2 separate regions of the Homo sapiens genome follow, and region 2 is linked to region 1. Evidence: fine-mapped QTL for protein levels in blood plasma. A gene starts in region 1. The other region holds a variant in brackets. All regions are shown on one strand. Distances are from middle to middle. Region 1 holds the start of SEMA3C (semaphorin 3C). Region 2 has its middle 21 kb from the start of SEMA3C.

Region 1 (8,877 bases):
TCTGCAAAACACCTTTCAGTTGCTGATTTTTTATTGGAAAACAGTAATAGAACTTTAGAAATACGAACTAGAAGTATATGCCACATGTATTTAAATATATACTCTTAAATACATTAACCCCATACAAAGCTCTATATTTTGATGTTGAGAATAAACTACTTTGGAGGAAACTTAAAAACCTACTTGGTACAATAGTCAATGAGTCATCATTTGACTAATGAGAAACTTTAAATAATAATAAATTTGAACAGGCATTTCAAGCAGGTACACTGTGAAATCTCCTAAGAAAACTGTATTGAACCAAGGTTTAAAATTTGTACATTTTGACAACTGTTTTCGCCTGATACTTTCCCTATAACTTGTCTATGTAGTTCATTGTAGGAATGTTTAAAATTATTGAGTTACCAATCGTGCAATTTTATTAGATGTATTCTCACTGTTGATACATCTCTTTTAAACAGTATTCAAAACAAGTGATTTTCTATCTCTCTGATTATTTGCTCTGTTTTTCTCTCACTTCCTAAGAGTACCAGTAATACACCTGAGAAGAACAAAATATCAGGAATTATAGAACTTTGAGATCAACAACTCATGTCATATTCTACATAAGTTACAAATCAAGGCAAGTCTTATTCTGCAAGAATCTGTTTTAAGTTTGAGTGCATTTAAAATATTAGGCATATATTATTTTAAATCCCATCATTACTTCTAGTCACTGTATAGCATAGCTGTCACTGTCTTACACAGTTCTGAAGTCTGGTTCTAAAAGATTATACTATGTAATTTCCTTCTGTAAAATATGAATTGCAATTGCTTTTTCAAATACAGAATTGGTTCATTATCTCTAGTAACACACTTTTTGTTGATATTTACATTAGTTTGGATTAATTTTCATGTAATGGAAAAGAAAGCAGGTAGAGACATCTAATCTATTAGGTCACTCCATCTCTATATATACTAGGAGAAATATAGAAAATAGAGGGGAAATTGCACTACTTCTTAATGCCCTTTCTCTTTTATTTGAAAACGTATTTCATAGTTCTAACTTGGGAGGAAAAGTGTGGGTAGTCTGTAAGATGCTTTAGTAATTAAGGGGCTAAAAAGGATACCTCAAAGGGTCTGTTTTTCCATTCTTCACAACTTAACTGCATAGCTATGGGTTTTAAGGGGAAATGCCTTGCATGGAGGCTAAGGAAGCAATTAGAAGCTCACACATTCTAAGTTCCAAATATGGCTCCTTCGGTGCTTATGACAACCTTGGGGAAAGCACTGGTGACTTAAAAAGAAAAAAAGGACAGCCATTTGACTGGCAAGTGTCAGTCATTCTGCTATTTGAAATTTGAGGCCAGGCGTGGTGGCTCACCTCGGGAGGCGGAGGCGGGCAGATCACAAGGTCAGGAGATCGAGACCATCCTGGCCAACATGGTGAAACTCCGTCTCTACTAAAAATACAAAAATTAGCTCGGTGTGGTGGCACGCACCTGTAATCCCAGCTACTGGGTAGGCTGAGGAAGGAGAATGGCTTGAACCTGGGAGGTGGAGACTGCAGTGAGCCGAGATCGTGTCACTGCACTCCAACCTGGTGACAGCGTGAGACACTGTCTCAAAAAAAAAAAAAAAAAAAGGAATTTGAGACAAAGTTTCAGAGACACTCTGCTATAGAAAGGTCTGAGAATATATTGTTTATCAAATGAAAGAAAAAGTACTTGCAATGACACTAAAGTTTATGCAGAGTTGAAAGAAGTAATAAAATTATAAATGACCTTGATTGGCAGGATGGTGTTCCTCATCCATGTCTTGCTCCATCTGTCCAATTAGTATGGGTTACTTGACTAACCAAATTCATTCATCTGTAAGTCCTTTGAACTATATACATTAAAGCTCATGCAAACCATTCCCTCAGAAGACCTTGCACCTTTTATGTATGTGAAAATCTGAAATCACACCCATTTCCCTAAGCTTCTGAGAACATTTGTATACAACAACCATCAAAAGCATATTTCCAATTATTCTTTTAGGTCCTTTTCAATTAATTAGGGGACTATGCCAATCTCAGGAAATCCTTGTGGAAAAAGAAGAAACACCATTAGAACAACACACGGAGTAACCAGTTTTGAGACTAATGCCCAAAAAATTAATTGGGAGAATTTTTTAGTAATTGAACCTGCATAGCTCTCTCTGCTGCTGAGGATTAGCACAAAGGGGCAATTTCTTAACATTACCAGGTGAACAGTAAGATCAAAGATGCTAGGCTTTGAGCTCGTGCCCATCTCCTCTGTGAGTACACAGGCAAGCACAGAAGAATTATTTTACAAAAAGCAGCATATATTATAAGCATTTTCATAAATACCTCAAATCCAACAGAGGATCTTTGTCTATTAACCAATCATTTAAAATAGCTATTGTCCTCCAAAACGCAGCCCAGTAAATATTTTTAAAATTAATATCCAGTAATATTTATACTCTTAATTTCTGAATCTGGATAAGGAAGATAACAAAACTTAAAATAACATTTTTCCCAGAGTGTTTATCAACTCTCTTACCATCAAATGTTAAATAAACTCTTGCTTGGGGCTGGGAAGATCCTTTCACACAGATAGAACAAATAAATACTCCAACCAACACGCAAATTGTCCGGAATGCCATTTCTTCAGATATGCAAGTTAATATCCAAGGGAAAATACCTTTAAGAGAGAGACAACATGTTTGTTATATCTCATTTCACATTTTAGGAGTAGGAAAAAACAGCAATCTAGACAAAACACCCTATTCACAAAAGAACCATCTGAACTTTTACAGTAATGCAAACAGTAGGAGGTGCTGTGTCTTTGCTTCTCAGATGTGAAAATGTGGATTTGATTCATTTGTGTCTGGAAGTCTTTGCAACAAGAGAAACTTTCATCTTCCAGCAAATTGATGCTACCATCAAAACAGAACAAAGCAGTGAAGAAAAACACTGATACCCAAAGGAAAGCCCAATATTTTAACGGATCTTCTCTCTAGAAATCCATTACATTAAAAAGACTTGAATAGAATTGAGCTAAAAGAATATTACTGGATGAGAACTCTTTCCCCCCACTAACGTAACAGCAGCAGCAAAATCTCACATGAGCATTCATGTGTACCTACTCACTTCAATAGTCATTAGCTCTTTTGGAGTAATTGTCTCTGGAAGTGGTGTTTCCTTACATAAATCTATGTGTGCTCAATCCTGGATCACTGAAGTCACTGGAATCAGTTATCTGCCATTTTATCCAGATGACCAACAGGCAGTTGTTAAATGATGCAGTTGAAGTAACCATGGACTAGTGCCAAATTCAAACCAATGACCTAGTGGTGAGCAATCCAGTGAGCCATGTATCCACCAATGCATATTTTAAATAAATCAACCAGAATGTGGGCTGTCAAAATTCCCAAAGATAAATCAAAGAGACAGGTGTCACTGCTTCAAACTATAGATATAAAATTGGTACATGCTATTAACTAATATCTGAATCCCAAGGAAGACCAGATAATGTGTTACCATAAACCTACAGGAGCTCTAGTGGCTACATCATGTAAAATAAACTCAGGACCATTAAAGAAACACAATCATTTTGCTTCTACCATAATTACACAATAAAGTGACCCAAGAGTCCAGTAAAGAAATTTATTTTTACAGGTTACAACAATGCTGATCTTCATTATTTGGCTTTTCAAATTAAAATTTCATAGTCAAAATTATTAAATTCTTTGTAAGAACCACTAACAACTGAAAAAGACAGCTTCATTAATACAGAATAAAAAGAATTAAATGGAATATGCAATTTTAAACAAAAATTGTAAGTAGATTTCCTAGGTGGTGCATATGTTATGAGAGTTAGAAATGAAATTGTACGCTTCTTTTACCACACAGATGGAGGAAACTCTAGAGATGTTTGTGTTGGTAATTTTCAAAAGAAACAGTTTCTTCCTGCTTCCACAACCTCTTCACCCTGTCATCCCTAAATTAACTTAGAAAGAAACTGATTTTATGGGTGACTTTCCCTCAGTAATTTACCCCTTGGTTCTGTTGACTTCATAGTTAAAGCCAAAAGAAAAAAACTATTAATATGCCTAACCTTTGTTATGTTTACTGAGCAAGTTGATATTATTTACACATTTTTTTTACATATTGGTATCTTACCTTATATGTTTCTCCCAAAAGTACATATACAACCAATTGCAAAGAATACTGGTGATACAATGGCAGGTGAAACGAAGATAGTCTACAGGGCAATTTGATTTACATCCCACCTAGTGATGAGGAGTGAAAGACTGAAAGCCAAGTGTCTTAAATACACCCCCGCCTCCCCAACAGTATCTTACAACTTCTTCCCTTTAACTCAGACACAGACGTTCCTCTTGGTGTTTTCACTTCTGCTGATCGCAAACTAACAACACATTAAGAAAAGAATTCTCTTATCTCCTCTGGAGCAATTTTGCCTTTGAAGGCACTGTAATACTCAACTTGAAACTCTCCGCAGGTGTCACCGCCTAAAGAAACAACTCGAGCAGGGCTCTCAGCAAGGGGAAAGCTTCCCTGACAAACCGCGTGTGTTCTTAAGAAAATGTCCAGGCTTGAGCATACCAATGTATGAAAAATCAATATACAGGCCAAAAAAGTTATACTTTGCTAAATCTGTAATGCGGAAAATGACCAATTTAGCTTACCGAGGTTGAAAGAAATCAGCACGGAAAAGTCATCAGTTTGCTACCGGGGTTGGATGCGCTTGTGTCTCCAGTCCTTTTCCCAGACGACCTTATTTTCTAGCACGTCGCAAAGGTGAAATTCTTTCTTCCCGGTCCTCTGAGTTTCTTTGTAAAGGAATCTCAGCGCTGCAGTGCCGCGGCACCCGGAGCTCTTCTCCGCGTCGCTCAATCAAGCACCTCGGAGTGAATGGAAAGTGGCCGGAGGCCGGGGGCGAGCGCTCTTGGTGTCCGATTACAGCGCCGCGGCGCGCGGCTCCGGCTGCCCCGGCGCGCCGCCCTGCAGGCTCGCATCACCACCGCGCAGCCCCGGCCGCATCTCCGCCAGCCGCGAGGCCCCACCCCGAGCGCGCCCGCGAGAGCCTGGCAGGGAGCCGCGGGGGCGGACCGGGCGGGGCCGACCCTTAGAGCTCGCGGCTGGCCAGACGCAAGAATGCGCGGCCGCAGGCTGGAGCCCTAGCTCCGCAACCCTGCTCCTTTCGCAGTCCGCGGCGGAGTGAGCAACTTGCTGGGTGCGCTCCACGGTTTTTGTTGCCGGCGGCTCTCGAAGACTTACACAGGCTTTGCCTGGCCGTAAATATCAAAGTGCAAAGCAGTTGTGGTTTTTTATTTTTGCCAGGGAAGGATCACTGCAGCCTTTTAAGGCAAAGAGATGCGTTTTTAAAAGGACGTGAGTTTTGTCCTTATTCTGCTGCGTTTTTTTTTTGTTTTTTGTTTTTTGTTTTTTGTTTTGTTTTTGGAGAGGGAATCTCACTCTGTCGCCAGGCTGGAGTGCAGTGCAGTGGTGTGATCATGGCTCACTGCAACCTCCGCCTCCCGGGTTCAAGCGATTCTCCTGCCTCAGCCTCCTGAATAGCTGGGACTACAGGCTCCCACCACCACGCCCAGCTAATTTTTGTATTTTTAGTAGAGACAGGGCCAGGATGGTCTGGATCTCTTGACCTAATGGTCCGCCCGCCTCAGCCGCCCAAAGTGCCGAGAGCCACCGCGCCGGGCCTCTGTTGCGTGTTTTCTAAAACAGGTCAAGATAAACGACAATCTTGTTGCACAAGTGTATCCTTTTAATGGGTATTGTTTCCTATTGAGTTTCCTTAATGCCCTGAAAGCAGTAATTCTGTTGACCCCTCCACGTTGACTCATATCCAGTACGTTGTCCCCAACCATACTCCCAAACATAATTACACGAAGAAATTATTTGACAATTCTATGTGGAGAGGCTGTTCTGAGTTATGCCAACAGATTGCCATAACCACACATCTACAGAAATACATCAGAGGTATTTTTCCAGCATTACTTTCAGGTACACTCGTTAAACTCTGGAACTGACTTTGATGTTTAAGTGAAAATTACTTCTCCGGACCACAATAAACTAGATGTTTAAACATCGGGAGAAATGAGCTTTGATCCCCATAAAACAAGCAGGCACTTGCTTAAAATCACTGTGGGGCACAGCCCAGCAGATGTCACTCTACAGAAGGAACGTGGAGTGTAATATCTCCACCTTATACCTGACAATTCACATAATGAAACAATCATTAAATTCTTATAAACTGTATCATAGAAAACCCCTCTGGGGGTGCAAAATCATTGTTCAGTGGGAAAGTTGAATGAAATCTCAGGTAGGAGGAAGAGGTGAGTGAGACACATCTTTCATGTGTCTGGGGCCCACCTCTTGTGTTCAGTAAACATACACGTGTCTCAGACTCACGCTGCATAGTCAAGGAACGAAGGATCAAGTCAAATAATGCAAATTTATGAGTTCAAAAATACTATTCCAGGGCTAATATTATCTCCAAACGTCAAAAAATTAATATAGTAACAACAGTTAAAATTATTTTTTGTGATGATGCGTGAGAAGATCCTTGACATAAATTTGTAATAAGGAATTTAACCCCCCAAAAACTGACAATATTAAAATCCAGATGTCAATGTGAATAAGCACTGTGCGTGCTTCTCTGAAATACTTCTGAAACTGAGTAAGATCCAGGTTATATACTCTCCACTATTATCCTCCTTCTGATATCTCATTCGGCATTTATATATTAAGCAGGGAGAAGAATAAATCATTAGAAAGATGAGTGTGTGGATTAAATTAATTTAGAAATGTGGAGCTGTTAGAAATTGATCAGCAAATTCACGTAAGATGGAATTCGTTTATACATTTTAAGTTTGAGAAAACCACGATAAAGAGTTGCAAGATGAAATGCATCTCAAACGGTGTATTTACAAAGGAGCTTAATTCCAAACTCAATTTACAAACACCAATGAATTAGCTCAATCTGTTACACATTCAGGGGTTTGGAGGCCTTGACAAATAGCTTAGATTTAATCACAGCCCATGAAATTTGTGCCGAAATTCCCTCAATATTGCTCAAATAAACCTCTTTTCAATGTGCTCCTGGGATTTAATGGTATTTGCTTAGCTCTGAGACGTTTACAGTTGGCCACACCTCAAAATGAATCATAAAAATACTGATAGGCTTTAGCCAAGATAGATTCAAGCGCAAGGACACAGTGCTCATGCTTGCCAGAGACTTAGGCCACAGAGTGGAATTTTAACAGTGGCACTAGAAGCCCCTAAGATTAATCTCTGCCCACATTTCCCCACACTGCTTAAAACACCTTGACAAAACAAGACTTGCCTAAGAAACATTTCTGGGCACTACCACTTTTTTAAGACTTCAGCTTTGACTGTCCTTACAAGTGGAAAACAACAGCTAATTGAGAACGCTGTTTTCGGTAAGGGGGACACTAAATGGATCTACAGGAGTAGTGGCACAACTAAATTTAGAGAGCACTAATTACAATGTTTGCACCCAGCAAAACGTTTCAGACGAGCGGCCAAACTAAAATACTTAGGATAACTTTTATTAAGACGTTTTAGAAATGGTGCAGTATCTTACACACTGAAGTGTCTCTGCCTGCCAAGGTGTAGTGGGCATATTTTTAATATTTTATGTTTTTGATGGTCCTGAGGAATGCTATTTAACTTAAAACTCTAGCACCGATGTTGAGTTACATACTTTTCTCCAGGAGTTTCTGCAGCTATACATTATCTTATTTCAAATTTAAAGAAAACAGATTTTTCCCTATTATACAGATGAGTCATGTAAATAAACTTTACCCTAACCAGAGAATATTAATCATTCAGAGGTTAAAAATTGTCTTATTATTTAGTCATAAAAACTGATATTTGTAATAGAAAATAGATTGTGTATTTGCGAGGTACTTTGCTTATTATCTGCATAGCATTCTTTAATGAAGTTACAATTTTCAATGAGAGAACGTTGAAGGTTTGCCCAAAGTCAAATGGGTAGTAAATATCAGAATAGGAAGAGAAACTCAAGCGTGATTGCCGTAATGTCTCAGGTTTTTCAATAAGTTTCAATACTTCCTCTTACCTTTTTTGCTTAACATTTTTCTCCTCTTTTCTACTTCCCTCTCTTTCTCCTTCACTCAACTTCCATATGCCATCCTTTTAAGTTTCCTGAACTGTATCTTTGGAAAGTCTCAACTTCCAATGGTTACTTACTTTATTTACATCAGCCTTACGTCTCCTTGGGTTACATTAGCAGCTCTGAGACCAAGCCGGTCAAACAGGTCTGGTCTAGAAATCTGTGTGTGAAACTGCTACCTGCACAGCAAATAGGCTTTAATATTTCCTCTATCAAATCATTTCTAATTTTTCAATAAGATGAGTGTATCTCTATTTTCATTCTTAATCTATTGCTAATCTGTATTGCTGACTGTTTTTTCTCTGTTGATATGTACCACTCTATGCTTCTCAAATTGTAGGGTTCTTGACATTAAACAAAATAAACTGGCAACAGTGGTTTGCTCTGGAGAGGAAAATTGGCTAGAAAGGTTTCATGGTTCACTCTGTTTTACATTTATAATTTTAAACGAGGTGAGTGTATAAGCTATTACAAAGTTCAAAGTTTAAGTCCTCAGTATTTCCTTAAACACCTTTAAACATATCAAGTATGTTAAGCGCAATATTTCGCAACTCAACCAAAATAAAAGCATATTGCCTCTAATGTTTATATATTACAATATTTCATGTAAAAGTAGAATAGTAAAGAATTTCAGTAGTAAGAATCCCTTAGTGAATTTACTTCCTTAGTACAAAAATGTCATGTGTGCATGACA
Region 2 (8,877 bases), 22 kb after region 1:
TCAGTCCTGAGAAATGGAGTAGGCCGCTCCTTCCCTCTACCTGCTTTAAATGCATTTCCCACCTTTTGTAGTGGCTGGTGCTTCCAGGCCTGGACCTTGCTGTGGTTTTGCAGTACATATTGACTCTCTTCTCACCAGCTGCTGCCTTCTCTTCATGTCCCCTGGGCCACAGATTTTCCTATCCTGTTGGAACAGTACCACTTTACCATCTGCTTTCTGCCTTCTAGAAACATGTTAAAAGCTTGGGAATAGCCCCATTCTACTCACTTCATTGTTGCAAATTCATACTCTTTACAAAACTCTTTAATATTGCTTTAATATACAGTTAAGTAGATAAAGATATAAATTCAAATGTTCCATCACTATTTTGAACAAAGCCTTCCCTTCTCCCCTTCAATTAGCACTTGATTCCCACTGCCCTCCTCCCTACTGTATTTTGTTTGAAATTACTGTTGCTCTATCCCACCTCAACATTGGTAAACATTTTGTTTTGCATTGGGAAGATTTGCTCACCAGGAAAAACATAATGCTCATATAATTGCTCCCCAAAGACCACGCTTATTAGACTCTGGCTGGGCTAAGAATTCACTACATGTGAGAAACTAGACAATTCTAAAAACGAAATACATTATATGTGATATGGAAAAGACTGGCTATCTTCCCTCATTTAACTTCTGGCCTTAATTTCTCATCTGTAGAATTAAAGAAAAAAAATTATACATAAACCGTGTGTTAAAGTTTGTCCCTCAATTTTTTTTTTTTTTTTTTTTGAGATAGAGTCTCACTCTGTCGCCCAGGCTGGAGCTCAGTAGCGCGATCTCGGCTCACTGCAACCTCTGCCTGCCAGGTTCAAGCAATTCTCCTGCCGCAGCCTCTCGAGCAGCTGGGACCACAGTCATGCACCACCATGCCTGGCTAATTTTTTGTATTTTTAGTACAGATGGGGTTTCACCATGCTGATCAGGCTGGTCTCGAACTCCTGACCTCGTGATCCGCCTGCCTCGGCTTCCCAATGTGCTGGGATTAGAGGCGTGAGCCACCGCATCCAGCCATTGTCTTTCAAAATTTTAAATAACCTCTCATTAGTATAATCAGATAACAATATTACGTATTTTATATTTTTAGATATTTTATAGAGGGCATTTTCAAGGCATTCTATAAAATATTTGCAGAAATTGTTTTGGTCTAGGGATGAAAAAGAATATTTTGGAATTTGCCCTCATGATTTTTCCCATTTAATGCCACTTATGAGCTTTATTATATATTATATGTTTTTACTTAATAATATATAATAAATAATATACATATTAAACATTTTCTTATAAATTTTTATGCATTCAGGAGTCTTGAACACTATGAGTCTTCATCCTCTTGTAAGTCACTACATCTTCTTGTAAGGATTGTTTTTATCAACAGACAGTATAATTACCTTTTCATATGGAGTGGATCGTTGACTTCAATGACATTTTAATGGATCTTAAGTGGATCCTGACCCTGACCTTATCTTATTTGTGTGTGACTTTCCATAAACCATTAGGCGTATGTTCTTTATTCACTTAAGTTGTGTGAAACAAACCTGGTACATTACTCACTTGCCTTTTATTCCTTTTGTTATGTGATAAAACAATATTTGTAAATCGCTCTAACTCATGTATTAATAACATGATTAGGTAGTTATTTTTAATTATAGACTAAAAAATTGGGTAAGCCAAGTTTGGATCAGTGCTTTTGAGCTTAACACTCAAAATGATGCCATTTCCAATGTCAGGAATGGCCTCTGTCTAATGTATGGTCATTTCAGTGATGTCTAGGACACCTTGTCTTTCTCCACTGAAGGTATTTATAGAATTTCCTTATACGACTAACTGGTCTGTTGGAACTACTTATTGTAAAAACCTAGCCATCTTTATTTCTGCATGTAACATAAAAAATTAAAAGCAAATACATTAAAGAAGATAATTTATAATCATGTATTTTGGTTATAATTAATGTAATTTTATACAAATTATAAATAGATACTTTCCTTAAACCAAAAGATTTCTTTAATTTTTCTTCTCAGAGGAACCAGTATTATCTTCTCTAAAACAGTTTTCTACTTGATTAAACTAAAATCTGGTAAAACCACCTTTTATCTCTAAATAATCTGCAATATTTAGAATTCTAGAATTAGAAAGGATCTTTAAGATGATTTTGTCTAATTTATTCATTATACCTATAGAAACTGAGGCTCAGAATAGTTGGTGATTGTTAGGGAATCAAAATTAATAGGCAGCAGAATCTCAAAGAGAACCGGTACCTGTTGGTCACCAGACCAGGGCTCTTTCAGTTGTTACTTTATGTCCACCACACTTCTATACCTTAGAGAATCAGATTGCCATTCTTCATTGGTTCAGAGAACTGATATGAATGAGTACATGTAGCAAAAGCTATTGTCATTTATCATTGTACAGGAATTTGTGAAGTCCTGGCATTATAGAATGAGAAGCATCTAGGAGGCTAGCTAATCTAATGCATCTGTACCCTAATACTGTGTATGTAATGTATATTACATAGGCATATGTATATGATTAGCTAATCTAATGCATCTGTACCCTAATACTGTGTATGTTATGTATATTACATAGGCATATGTATATTACATATAAATTACATATGTTATGTATATGTAATTACATACATAATTACATTATGTATATTACATATGTTATGTATATTACATATGTATATGTGTGTACCTATGTAATATACATATATTACACATATATATATCTCTGTATGACTTTTTTATTCCCGTTTGTATACCATATATATTTTTTAATCTTGACTTTTTCATTAAATTCAAACTATAGAGTGCTTATCATGTAAAAGATGCTTGGCACTTTACATATATTACCTAATTTCATTTTCACAATAATCCTGAGAAGTTTTCTTATGCCCAATTATACACCGTGAAACAATGTTAAGAAAAAGTTTCTGAAAGAGTGAACATTTCACTTCATATCCCACAGAGCGAGGATTCAAATTCAAGTCTGTCTTTCTCCACAATAGCTTGTATTGTTAACCATAATTTTCTCTGGCTTTTCACACTACTGTTCTTCAAAACTGCCATGCTTGTTCTCACTTTAGAGTCTTCAACCTAACGAGTCTATCTAGGAATGCTCTGCCTTCCATCCTGCCATGATTCACACCTTCTACAAATTGAGATCGCAGCTGACATATCAGTTCTTCAGAGAGTTGTTTCTTGTTCATTTTTTTATTCATCATCTATCTATATTACCTATTATCTATCTATCTATCTATCTATCTATCTATCTATCTTCTACTGTCCTTTCTCTCTACTAGAATGCAAATTTCATAAATGTGTTTCCTTTACCACTATAATATCCATTAGTCCAATACCTGGCATGGATTAGCTCTTGAAAAGTATGACTTGAATTAATTAATTGATTTACACAATTTACATACAGACTGTCCAGCATTTTCTACTTTGTTATCATCTTATCATAGGTGTCAACAATTTAAAAAAAAATAATTTTTTCAGTTATAGCATATTATTTAGTTCAGGGGATGCATTATAATTTATTTAATCTTGCTCTATTTCTAAATTTTTAAAATATTTGCTTTCAACTTTTTGTTACTCTACGTTAAAGTTTCTCAACTGTGCACTACTGACATGTTGGTCCAAAACGTTTTTGTTGTTGAAGGGGGGTGTGAGACTATTCTGTGCACTGTGGGTTGTATAGCAACATTTCTAGTCTTTTTTTTTTTTTTTCGAGACAGAGTCTCGCACTGTCGCCCAGGCTCGAGTGCAGTGGGCCGATCTCGGCTCACTGCAAGCTCCGCCTCCCGGGTTCACGCCATTCTCCTGCCTCAGCCTCCCGAGTAGCTGGGACTACAGGCACCCGCCACCACGCCAGGCTAATTTTTTTTTTTTTGTATTTTTAGTAGAGACGGGGTTTCACCGTGTTAGCCAGGATGGTCCCAATCTCCTGACCTCGTGATCCGCCCACCTCGGCCTCCCAAAGTGCTGGGATTACAGGCGTGAGCCGCCGCGCCCGGCCAACATTTCTAGTCTTTATGCACTAGCTGCTAGTAACTTCCCATCCCTGAGCTGTGAAAACAAAAAATGTCTCTAGATATGGCCAAATGTCCATTAGGGAACAAAATCACCCCCAGTTGGGGACCACATCTCTAAATTATGCTGCAATAAATACCTTTAGGTGTAAGGTTCTTTCCATATTTAAAGGTATTTCTAAGGGTTAAAATCTCAGACTCATTTTATAGATGGAAAATCAGAGGCTTAAAGAGTAAATTACTTTGCCTAAGGCTATACACTTGTGAGGTAGAAAAGTTGGAATTTTATCCTCAGTCAGTATGAAGTCAGGGCCTTGTGTTTCAGCACTATGTTTCAGGACCCCTAAATAAAGGTCCCATATACTATGGTGCCAGACAATAGTATCTCAATTCTTGATTCCCCCTTTACCCTATTTCCCCTCCTTTCTTTAAGGATTTCTTTGCTCCATCCTGCCTTCCAGTAACCTTTCATTTTTATCTCTCTTGGAGATTCATCTTTTCCCTGTCTCCTCATTTTACTCACCCCTCCCTTTGTTGTAGGTTTAGTACAAGCTGACCCTGAGCCAAGGATGTATGTGTAACCAATTTATTAAGGAAATTCCTCTAGGGCATGCAGGTTAGGGAGTTGGAAAAAGCAGAAGAAAGAAGGGAAGTAAGCCAAGCAATAGTGCAGGTGCAGAGGCATGCATCCTGTAGAGAAGAACTTTAGCCTGACTTTTCAGGGAGCTCTGGAGTGTGTGTCACACCTTAGAGTTGCCCCAACTAGAGGCAAGAGAGCTGTTTTCATAGCATCATACACTCTTGTGTCATTGTTATAGGATAGGAGAGAGAATATACACGAAACATTTAACATCCCTCCCTCCACACACAGAAATAACAAAAAAGGATAATAAGGGATTTGTGAAGAGCTCCCATATTGCTCACCACATACTTCTCAGTTATTGTGTTATCGCCACCATGAAATTTGCCATCTGCTGTTTTCTGTTGCTGTAACTGCTCTGCTAGGTCCCAGCTAATAAATAAGGAACACTGAAGCTGAATATAAATAATGGTTCTGGGAACCAAAGTTCTGAGACAGTCTCCTTATAGACCTCTTCGGTTTTTAACCCAAAAGGAAAAAAATGCAGGGTGCTCATGTGTGTGGAAATTCATTAACACTTTAAGAGATCTCTGGATCAAAAGTAACCTCTTAGGGAATGTGCATTTCAAGGCCCTGTCTTACCCCAAACTGGAATTTTTGGCCCGAGGAAAATAGCAAATTATCTCACTTAGGGACAGCTGGTGTCCTCACGGAGGTTTAAATTTAACTTAGCAGCTAGAAGCTAGTCATCTTTAGATTCAGAAATACGAATTCATTGCAATAAGGAGTTCACCAAGGGCAGGCCGAAAGGACAAAGCAAAGACAAGTACAGTCTTATTTCAGTGCCATAAAGGAATTGTCATATGA[G/C]CCTTGACACACAAATTCCACAACTGAAGATCATGCAACTATTGCCCAATAAATTTAAACAGAGTGATTGCACTTAGCCTTAATTGTCCAGTTTCTGTTTTTGAAAAAAAGGCAATGAGTAACACAATGTTTCATAACCAGGAAAGAAGTTTTTGAATTTCTTTATATCACAGATAGTGAACACAATCTAAAAATAAATATTAAATAATCAAAATCCCAATGTAAAATATATATCTATCTGTATATATTATCACATGGAGGGAAAATTTGCACCACTAATATAAATGCTATTTATTAGGCATTGCTTTTCTATAGATTTTCATCCACTCTTTCATTCTTCTGCTCTATTCCTTGGTCACCTTCCTTCCATCTCTTTTCTTTCCCCTTTTTTCCATCTTCAATTTAGTGTTTGTTTCTTAAGAAACAAGTTTACATATTTCTTAGTTCTCTGTCAACAGAACCTTTCTCACTTTTCAACTGCAAAAATCAAGGTATTTTTCTAAAGAATCCATCAAAATAGGAGTTCTAATGTCCACTGATTAAATAATAATTCTTCGCAAGGTGCTTCAAATGCATTGACATATTTGAGAAAGCTATTGCAGACAGATAGCAAATTTATTCCCCTCTTAATATGTTAGTACTAACAAACAACTCAAGTCAGTTTGTACAATCAGATTGCTATTTAGAAGTTTCAGTTCTAACTAAAAGGCTGTTTTTCATCTTCACCAAACACTGGCTAGTCAGCAACTCCTGCCAGCATTCTCATAGCTGCCCCAGACAGCCAGTTGCAGGAACTCTGGCTGAGTCATGTCTCTGCTCAGCTACTCAGTAATGAAATATCCCTAGGGACATTCCTAAGACATGTCAGAGATGTGTTTCTAGTCTCCACCTATTTCTTTGTCGTGCCCCAAGCTGTGCCCACATTAGTGGAATTTCCAGTGCATTGCCATGCTCAGTAGGCCAAAGAGAAAAGTCTGCAGAATTGCTACTTAATATTACTTAATAAATCAGTAACAGAAGCAATGAATGGAATGGAATGCAAAATTCTTGGCTCTTAGCCTTAGATAGAACCACTTCCTTCCTATGAGCAAATAGTGGTTCATAGGTTAGCTTGGGGAGGGCTACTTCAAAGGGATAGTGTCTAAGTAGTCAATTTTGCTTGAATAAATTATGGAAAATACAGTTTTCAAGAGGAGAGGCTATGCTACTTTTTTCCCTTTTGGAATACTGGGTATATCCTAGGTAATAGAGAGTCAGTGAACAAATCTTTGCTGATGCTAATAGTTAAACAAAATGATTCAAATAGTTACTGAGCAAACATTTGCTGATTAAATAACATAATGATTCATATATGAAATGCGTTAGTTAGGTTCTACATATACTGTATCATTTCCTTTCAACCAGTATTTTCTATTTGTCCCAGAATAGCCTCCAAAAGAAAATTGCTGCTGGCAATTTAAAAAGACAACCATCTAAAAAAAAGTAACAAGTTGACCGGGCGCCGTGGCTCACGCCTGTAATCCCAGCACTTTGAGAGGCCGAGGCGGGCAGATCACGAGGTCAGGAGATCGAGACCATCCTGGCTAACGCTGTGAAACCCTGTCTCTACTAAAAAAATATAAAAAATTAGCCAGAGCGAGACTCTGTCTCAAAAAAAAAAAAAAGTAACAGACGGTAGAGGCAGTCAAATGTAGAGAACGCAGAAGCAACTCTTCTTTTAGTCCCTATTTATTAATAACCCTTTCTGGACCAAAACAAAAGAACAGTAATGGACAAATTTTCTTGCAGATTCAAGAAAACTGCTTCATATCACTATTATCTAATTATCTTCATCAAGTTGCCACACTACTGTTCTAAAATGTCTCTTTGATCCAAGCACTCCATGTGCTCCCCACTGTCAATGTCCCAATGCTACAGAATCTGCTTCCTTCCAACCTTTTACCTGCTACCCACTGGGTTGATGCTCCTGGACTCATGACCAGATCTTATCTTCACATATGGCAAACATCGCTGTTGGATAAACACTTTCTGCAGAGATTTCCTTTTGAGACATGTATCTAGGTGGCCATGGGTTGCAAAAATTGGTGAAAAAGTTAAAATCTATTTGCTCTACTAACTGTGGTCAATTGCTGATGTAATAAATAACATAATGATTCATATATGAAATGTGTTAATTAGGTTCTACAATACTGTATCATATCCTTTGAACGAATATTCTTTTTTAGTCCCAGGATAGCCTCCAAAAGAAAATTGCTGCTGGCAATTTGAAATAACAGGCATCTTAGAAAAATAACAAGTTAATAAATATAATAAAGAGATGGTAGAGGCAGTCAATGTAGAGAATGCAGAAGCAACTCTCCTTTTAGTCCGTATTTTATTAATAGTCCCTTCTGGACCAAAACAAAAGAACAGTAATGGACAAATTTGCTTGCAGATTCAAGAAAAGTTAATTAATCCTTAATCCTTAATTTAGTTCATGCTTCAAAATACCGACAATGTTTCTTTTCAAAAAAAAAAAACCAATCTGAACAATCTGAGTATTCCACTTCCCTATTTAAATCTTGCACAGTTCCCTATTTTACAGAGGATAAAAGGTAAACTTACCATGGTAAAATGGCTTTCCAATGGGACCTTAACCAGTCCCTTCCTCTGCCTGTCTCATTATGGGATCCAGTCTCGATGGGCTCTAAATCACTCATTGTTCTCAACACGTGGCTCCCTCTCAAGCATCTATGTCTTTGCATTTGCTCTTCCCTTTACCTAGTATAACTTTCTCTCACGCACTGCCACTTTTTCTCAGTTGCAGGATTTGTCTGAATGGGGACTATGAAGATATTTTTATTTTACTTGTTTTGTATAGTCCACTGAACTCTGAGCTCTTTGAAGACAAAAATCATAATTTATTTATTTTGTTAACATTGAATGTAAAGTGTAAGCAAAAGTCATTGAGGACCCTAAGCAAATTGGCATCAAGGAGGAAACAGAATGGACACTTAAGAAAGAGCATTACAGGACCTTACAACTGCTAGTTAAGTATTGGCTAGAGTATTAAAGAGAAACATGTCCTGCTACCCCAGCTTACCAAATGGGCATCACTTTTTCAGTCTGCTGAGATGCGATGACAGTCGCAGACCCACCTGGGGATATCCTGGCTATTAATTATACTTAGTGCAGAGTTCAAAAAGGACTCAGAACCATCAGGCGATTAAAGGATGTAGATTATGGATATAATTTTAGAAGAAAACAAAGCCACTTGAGTCATTCTCCTAATAAAGCAAATTCTGTTAGAAGGGGTAACACATTAAGCAGCATGTTGGTATGTACTTATGTACGTATGTATGTATGTATGTATGTAT

Evidence for each region. A credible set is the group of variants that fine-mapping cannot tell apart. PIP is the posterior inclusion probability: the model's chance that the variant is causal. Sun 2018 read protein levels with aptamers (SomaScan).
Region 2: its variant is the best candidate, but not a certain one, in a credible set for the plasma level of the SEMA3C protein (Sun 2018, PIP 0.52).

What each region holds. Positions count from the first base shown.
Region 1 is chr7:80,914,136-80,923,012 of GRCh38, forward strand. It overlaps SEMA3C (semaphorin 3C), which reads right to left and starts at 4,916. Exons shown (of 18, transcript NM_006379.5): 1 at 4,693-4,916; 2 at 2,544-2,684. The coding sequence starts at 2,646. RefSeq lists an enhancer at 4,436-4,505 and a silencer at 5,053-5,182.
Region 2 is chr7:80,936,034-80,944,910 of GRCh38, forward strand. No RefSeq gene overlaps it. Among named protein-coding and RNA genes, the nearest start is that of SEMA3C, 21 kb to the left of the region's middle. The variant G/C (reference allele first, on the strand shown) is at 5,522.